Linked DNA regions of Homo sapiens. The protein of the gene in region 1 purifies or fractionates together with the protein of each later gene. This does not show direct contact. Each region holds a gene or a part of one and is shown in the gene's direction. Other genes may lie near its edges.

Evidence for each region.
Region 2: the proteins of LAMP5 (region 1) and LMBRD2 purify together in Homo sapiens (affinity purification with mass spectrometry; one large-scale study listed by BioGRID and IntAct). This does not show direct contact.

The regions. Positions count from the first base shown.
Region 1 is NC_000020.11:9,513,140-9,517,389, forward strand, and holds the start of LAMP5 (lysosome-associated membrane glycoprotein 5 isoform 1 precursor), read left to right. Parts: upstream 1-1,450; 5' UTR 1,451-1,713; coding exon 1,714-1,777; exon of another isoform or gene 1,778-1,859; intron 1,860-2,313; coding exon 2,314-2,486; intron 2,487-2,860; coding exon 2,861-2,992; intron 2,993-3,116; coding exon 3,117-3,222; intron 3,223-4,250. UniProt on the Homo sapiens protein: Plays a role in short-term synaptic plasticity in a subset of GABAergic neurons in the brain.
Region 2 is NC_000005.10:36,138,388-36,141,887, reverse strand, and holds part of LMBRD2 (G-protein coupled receptor-associated protein LMBRD2), read left to right. Parts: intron 1-685; coding exon 686-781; intron 782-3,500. UniProt on the Homo sapiens protein: Recruited to ligand-activated beta-2 adrenergic receptor/ADRB2, it negatively regulates the adrenergic receptor signaling pathway. May also regulate other G-protein coupled receptors including type-1 angiotensin II receptor/AGTR1.

The DNA.
Region 1 (4,250 bases):
AATCATCTTTGTAAAGTTCTTGAGAAATGTTTGGATGAAATACTGAACTACAAACATAAAAGTCAAGATGTCAAAATATAATGTCAATTTTAATATTACTTTATACTTTGAATTGCTAGTGATCTAATGATTGATATAGGAATATGTTTGAAAGCCAAAAACATTATATAGATACTTTGTGGCAGATATGTCAGAATGTGATTATACTTAAAACAGCATTCTATAAATTTGAAGAATGTGAATTAATGATAGAGATTTCAGATTTCAGATTATTATTTGATATTGAATATAGATTTTTATGGAAGTCAAAATATGGAGTAAAAATATTATATAAGGAGAAATGAAGATAATCTCACAGAGTTAAAGCATGTGATTTTTGTATTTTAATTCTAACTGACCATGTGACATTTGGGAAGGTCATTTAATTTATTTGAGCCTCAGTTTTGGGGTATGTAAAACCACAGTAACTCATATCTTTCCTTGCCTACCCTCTAAGATTGGGGAGAATCAAATTAGATAATGCAGGTGAAATACTTTGCAATTTTCCCTTTAATATGACATTGTTTTATAACATTATATTACTGATGCAACATTTATTTGCATTATGAAATATCTTCTAAGGAATAAAATATTTGGACATCACTACAATTGATGAGGACTGCATGTGTATTTTTGAAAGCTGTATTCTGATTTACAGAGCAAAAATAAAAAATAAGCAAGCTACCAAATATGTAAATACAGGAATTAGCCCAGTAGTATTTGTTCTTCTGTTCCACTACAGGCTTTAGAGTAATATCAGTGTGTGTTTTTCTTACATAACTATGTGACATTACTTAGGGCATAATTCTAAAATTTCTGTCCTAGGAGACACTAGATAACTCTCAAAAACTTCTGATTTGCTTGCATCCCTTTTTGGCAGAGTGGTCACAGTATAATGCGGGAGGGTAGGTGACCCCAGAGTTCAGAGTCCTCATGCACCCGGGAGCAAAATTCACAGGAAAATAAGCCCACATGGAGCTACTGCATTGTCTGATGGCCTCGTTCGAGGAGGCGTCAATTTAACTTTAAACCCATGAGCTCATTGAGAGCAGGGGAGAGAAGGGGATGTCTCCAAATTCAGGAAACTGTTGCCATAGCATTTTCCCTTCTCTATTCCTGCATAGCCCTCCTCCCCCGAATCAGCAACAATTTTTGCTCCACCGTTTTCTTTCGGGAACCAGATGCGTTTTCAGAAGACAGTACTCCAGTGATAAGGTATCTACACCACTTAATAACTGTACCTGGTAAGGAGATTTAATAAGGCTGAGGGTGGTATTAAGTTTCTCAGAACAGACTCATCTTTGCGGATGCAGTTGCAGAACAGGAAACAGACCCAGGGAGAAGTTTAGTCCCCCCAGATCTCATTGGCCCTCCGCACAAGCCAAGCCACAGCCACTCCTGCCACACAATCGGATTGCTTTCAGCACTCGCAGCCGTGGACCGCCGTGCGGTCCTTTCCTCCGCAGTGAGCCGATTTGCTCTGCCAGCAGCTGTCGGTGCCGCGCTCGACACCGAGTCCTAGCTAGGCGCTCACAGAATACGCGCTCCCTCCCTCCCCCTTCTCTGTCCCCCGCCTCTCGCTCACCCCGGCCCACTCCAGCGGCGACTTTGAGGGATTCCCTCTCTGGCGGCCTCTGCAGCAGCACAGCCGGCCTCATTCGGGGCACTGCGAGTATGGATCTCCAAGGAAGAGGGGTCCCCAGCATCGACAGACTTCGAGTTCTCCTGATGTTGTTCCGTGAGTAGCGATTTGGCGACTGGGAGAGAGGACGGGCACTCTTTGCAGAGAACAGAGCCGGCAAAGTAAAGTCAATTAGCTTGAGATAAAAAATATGGCCCTTAATGTTTTGCGGTGTTTTTTCTTTTTTTCTTTTAGGGGAGGAGGGAGGGCCTTCCTCGCCGGTGGCAGGGAATTCCCCTGAGAGCCATACACCTCTGTGGCATATTCCAGACAGAGCCTAGACAGGCCAGCTTCGTGAGGTCAGAGCATTGGCAAGAAATATTTACTTTAAAATCCCAAGATGTAGAAAACAGCCAGCTATATTACAAACAAAGTCAGGATTTTTAATTTTTTTAACTGTATTTTCATTATAAATTAACAGCGAAGGAATGAGGCTTGTTAGACCCGGGTTAGAGAAACGGCTCGTAGAGCGCACAGCTGCTGGCAGAGAACTTTGTCACTCCAAAGCCTGCAGAGCACTGTCTCCCCACCCTAGCGCCCGAGACGCGTGGGCTGAGCCCTGAACTGATGGAATTGTTTTGTTTGTTCCGCAGATACAATGGCTCAAATCATGGCAGAACAAGAAGTGGAAAATCTCTCAGGCCTTTCCACTAACCCTGAAAAAGATATATTTGTGGTGCGGGAAAATGGGACGACGTGTCTCATGGCAGAGTTTGCAGCCAAATTTATTGTACCTTATGATGTGTGGGCCAGCAACTACGTAGATGTAAGGAATCTTTCCCCCCCCTCAGCTTGCTCCTAGGGCTCCAGGGCGAAGGGCACCCTTCCTCAAGGCTCTTCGAAGACCTGGGTTGCCCGCCTTCTTTCCCACACCCCGGCAGGCTGCTCCCGAATGCTGCATGGGGATTCCAGCTTGTAATGCCTTCTGTTCCCCTGCCTGCTTTGAAAGTAAACCCCCTTCTCTCCGCTTCCCTATCGGGGCTGCACGTAGAGCATCTAACCGCATGTTCCCGGAACCTGGGATGCGCGCGCGCAAAGGAGCGCCCAAGCGTGCAACCCAGAGTTTGGACGCGCCGCCCTTTACAGCCCCCGCCCCGGGGCCGGGCGAGCTGAGGGGGCGCGGGGCGTCTGTGTTCCCAGCTGATCACAGAACAGGCCGATATCGCATTGACCCGGGGAGCTGAGGTGAAGGGCCGCTGTGGCCACAGCCAGTCGGAGCTGCAAGTGTTCTGGGTGGATCGCGCATATGCACTCAAAATGCTCTTTGTAAAGGTAACTCCGAGCCCAGCGGGCAGAGGGGCCGCAGGCTCCGCGTGGGTGTGGGAAGTGGCGGCCCCTAGGTTTAAGAACCCAGACGCTGCGGGGACGATTGAAGCGCACCTCCCCGGCTCAACAGGAAAGCCACAACATGTCCAAGGGACCTGAGGCGACTTGGAGGCTGAGCAAAGTGCAGTTTGTCTACGACTCCTCGGAGAAAACCCACTTCAAAGACGCAGTCAGTGGTGAGTGGAGGCTGGCATGGCTGGGGAGGGAGCCTGGGAACTCGCAGAACAGGCTTGGAGAGAGAATTCCTCAAGGTTTTGGAAACCGTCCCACGCTTTGAGGTCCCAGGCCAAGTCTTCCCTCGGCTTGCTCTTTAGGGCGGAAGAGGCGGGAGCGCCCATGAGTCTTCTGGGTCTCAGGCCTTGTAGATCCGCCAGGAACCGCAGGCGTGGGGACCCAAACGTCACCCGTGGCCTGATCCTAGATAAGAAGTCCCTTGAAGGCCTGTCGTTCCCTGGTGCTTCAAAACGACCTCTTATGATTTGGCCTTTGAAGGACCACGGAGAAGGGCAAAGCTGCATTTTAATTTTCTTCCGCATCCTGGTTTTGTTTCTTATGCGCTAAAACTGCAAGGGGGCAGTGCGACTTTCCTTTTCAGTCAGGATGTGATGGCCTTCAGTGTCTTTTTGCGCATGGCAGCATGGCTCGCACGGGATATTCAGTCATCGACTGCAGCTACCTGACAGTGGATTCTGCACCATGTATAATTTACTAGCGTTTCTGGCCCATCCCTCCGACAACTCAGCCAGATCCTCCTCGGCAAAACGAGCGTTCATCCCCCAAATAACAATATTCCTATCTGCAGACACCGTCAAAGACCACATTTAAATTTATTTTATTCTTTATAAGTTGTCTATTTCACTCATAATGAGGCCCTTCATCACCCAGGCACCTGAGTTGGGAAAGGATTTTTATTGAATACATAAAAATACATGTGTCATCTTTCCCTTTTCACCCCTTTTTGTTATCACAGTAAAAGGAGGATTTTTTCTTTTTCATCAAAGTTTAGATGCAAGATGTCCCCCAGTTAAATTAGACCAAAAAGGAAAAAGGAAAAATCAAACTTAGGTCAGAAAAAGAGCAATGGGAGGCAGACCTTCAGAGGGGATGTATGTGTGTAAGGACAAGCATCCAGAGGACCAGCAATCTGTCCGGCTTTGTTGAGGAAGATGTTTTATTCTTTGCCAGGCCCGTGTGAAATGTGGAA
Region 2 (3,500 bases), on another chromosome or scaffold:
AAATGCAGGTGTTACTTCCATTTGAAGCACTATTAAAAAAACTGGATAAAGATCAGCAGCAGCTACAGATTGTTGCAAGTTCTTGGGATATCCTTCTAGCTTAGGAATATGGCTCCATGGCAGAATTTATGATCAGAGACTCATCATGTCTTCAAAAATTTAAACAGAATTATGTATAATTGCTAGCATGCATCTCCATAGAAGCTATGTTATAGTGAGTGATTTAATTAGCATTACAATTTTCAGGAATTAATTACCTAATGTTTTCCCCTCCCAACCCCTATAACCTGAAAAAAAAAAAACCCAACCTATAAATGGATTGTGTATTTTAAAGGTAATCATTAGAAATTTTATTTCATAATACATTTGCTTTTAATGATTGTTGCACTTTTAGTCTATTAGTTGAACATTAAGTTTTCTTTTTACCCAATGACTAAAAATACACTGAAAGTTGAAAACTTAAATGACATTTTCAGAACAATCTATTTTGTTGCTTTTGTGTGTTTTTTTAGTTTGGCAGTCAGCTTTGAATTTTAAAATTTCTTTGAAATTTTATGGGTTATTGATTATTAGAGTCAGTAATTTAAAATCTGAATGTAAATTAACTTGGCCACATGCAAATTAATTGTATAATTCATTTAAGTAGTCATTTATGATTAGTTGGCTTTAACTTTTTATTCAACAGCCAGCATCCTTGTTTCAAGCCATGGAGTTACATTCCTGATGGAATCATGCCAATTTTCTGGAGGGTAGTGTATTGGACGTCACAATTTTTAACATGGTAAGTTACAGTAAATGATAAAATTTTTAAAATTTTGGCTAAAGGAATAAAATGTTTTTCAATCAATATAGTTTGGAATTTATTTATGTGTCATATGCATTCTGAATCTTTCTACCCATTATTTTTATCTTTCTGCTGTGCTCCAAACTCATAGTTATCCACTGTCTACTAAGCATCTCTTAGATCTGCAAACAACTGCACTCTAAAACTGGAGGCACTGAACATTGCAAGAGAAAAATTACATAGCAGAGTAGTGCTTTTGTAAAGTCATGTCTATTAAATTCAACTGGGCTCTCAACATTGCCAGACTTTCCTTCTTTGTTTTTTTTAGTTTGCTTTCTTTCCATTTTCTACAAGAAATATTTCCATTCACTTCAAACTTCCGTCCTCTTTATGGCTTTCTCTCTTGTGCTCCCTAACAACAACAACAAAATCATCTTTACTCTTAGCCTCTTAGCAGATGACTACTTTCCATCCAGCAGTTAAAACAGGAGTCATCAGACGGCAGCTCTTTCAGCTTCTCACCAACAAATCTACATACCTACCCATCTTTTTTTCTTTCCCCTCCAAAGATGGAAGAGTCATGCTTGTTAAAGCCAATACTTCTGTCACAGGATCCTTAGGGGTGTTGTTTTGCCAGCTGGAAACCTCTATGGCCAGTAGCACCTTTGCCTGAATTTTACTCAGGCCCGCTGGGCTTATTCCGCTTACTCAGCCTGGCAGGTTGCACTTAGCTCATGCTCCTGGCTCTGATCTCATGACTCCCAAGGGCGAGCCAGGCATGGAGTGGTGAGGGGTGTGTGAGTGAGTGAGCATGGGATCCAGCCACTGAGCACAGCCAGACACGCTGGCTGCTGTGGCAGGGTGGGCAGCTCCAGGCATCGGCACAGGTGTCGGCTCTGTGAAAGCCTGTGGCTGGGTCAGATGCACTGCAAGCAGCTTCTGCTGTGGGCACCTGCATCTGGATGAGAGGAATGTGGTGGTACCCAGAAGCTTGGAGATGCCAGAAACCTCAGAGCTCCAAAGAGGGTGTCACAGCCCTAGCTTGGGGAGCCCCTAGATCTGGGCTCCTGGAAGGGCCACAGCTCTTCTCTTCTCGTCACCTGCAACATGGCAAGTGGCAGGGCCATGTTTCAGCCCTGTTTGTGTTTCAGCTCCTTCAGTTCTGCCATTCAGCAGGTCCTGAGTTCTTGTCCTACATCCAGGAAGAATGAGGTATGCAGACAACTGGAGGGTGAGCAAGGTGAAGAGGTGCTTTATTGAGTGATAGTACAACTCTCAGGAGACCCAAAGTGGATAGCTCCTTTCTGCAGGCAGGTTGTCCTGACAAGTATAGCTCTCAGTGGAGAGGAGCCCCAGAGTGGGTAGCTCCTATCTGCAGGCAGGTTATCCCAATCGTCTGTGCAGCCCCCAGTAGAGAGGAGACCTGAAGTAGATAGCTCCTATCTGTAGTCAGGTTGTCCTGTCATCTACCTAAGTGGGGCTGAGTCTGGGGTTTTTATGGGCTTCAGAGAGGAGAAAGTGTGCACTGATTGGGCCATAGGCAGACCTGGATAAAGCACCCTAAGTTCTCACTCTGGTCCACAGAGCTGATGGCCTGGCCTCCATGCTTCAGGCTGTCCCTGGCTTGAAGGTGGGGCTTCACCGGGGACCTGCCCACTTCTGCCCAGGAGCCTATCTGCCTCCTGCCACCATCAATCATGTCATTTATGGCACCCAGGCTGTTCATGCCAACCAGTGCCTGCAGGCCCATGCTGAGCTGCCCTCAGCCCCACTGTCAGCCTCCCTTCTGTGCTTGTTGATGTCCAAAGTCCAGAGTGGGCTGAGGCAGCCGGGGGCTGGTGTCAGTGCTGCCCTGAGCATGTGTGCACACCCAGCTAGGTTACAACAGTGCCTGGATTCAGTCACAACTTTTCTCCAAAATCAGAGCAGGTGTCAGGAGCAGGTACTTCCAAGCCTGTAGGGGTATGGGGGCTTTCTGGGTCCCCGAAAGTGCAGGGATGCCTGGGTCCACAGCCACAGCTGGGCAGCTGCAGCTATGCCCAGAGCAGGGCTCCTGCCCCGCCAACTCGGAAGGGGGTGGGGCTCCCACCTCTTCCCAGCTCCTGCTAGCTCCATGGAGTGCACAGTCCCCGCCAGTCCCCCCACACTGCGGCCAGCAACTTTGCTGGGGGCCACTCCAGACAAGCTGCTGCTGCCATCACTTCTTCCTAAAATATGGATCCATCCCCTTCAGCTCTTGTTACATACTTGTAGCTTTCAATTTCAACGAAGCATGCACATTTCTCTCATCTTTTGAAAAGAAAACAAACAAAAATGAAAGTCTCTCAATTCAGATTCCTTTCCAGCTTCTGCCTTGTTGATCTGATCACAACTAAATTTTTTTAGAAACTTTTTAAAATTGAAGCATAAGTTCGTACCGAAAAATGCATAGATTGTGTTTAGTTTGACTTTTTTCAAAGTGAATACACCCATACACCAGCACTCAGATGATGTTATAGAACATTAGCAATGCCCCCAGAAGCCTCGCTCACGCTTCCCTGTGTAGTCATCCCGCACTCCCCAGAAGTAACCATGATTCTGACTTCCGTCACCATAGATTAGTTTTTGCCTGTTTATGAACTTTATAAGCATAGAATTATACATTGTGAACTTTTTTGCATCTCTCTTTGCTCACATATTTGGGAAATTCATCTATGCTGTGCTGTATGTATCAGTA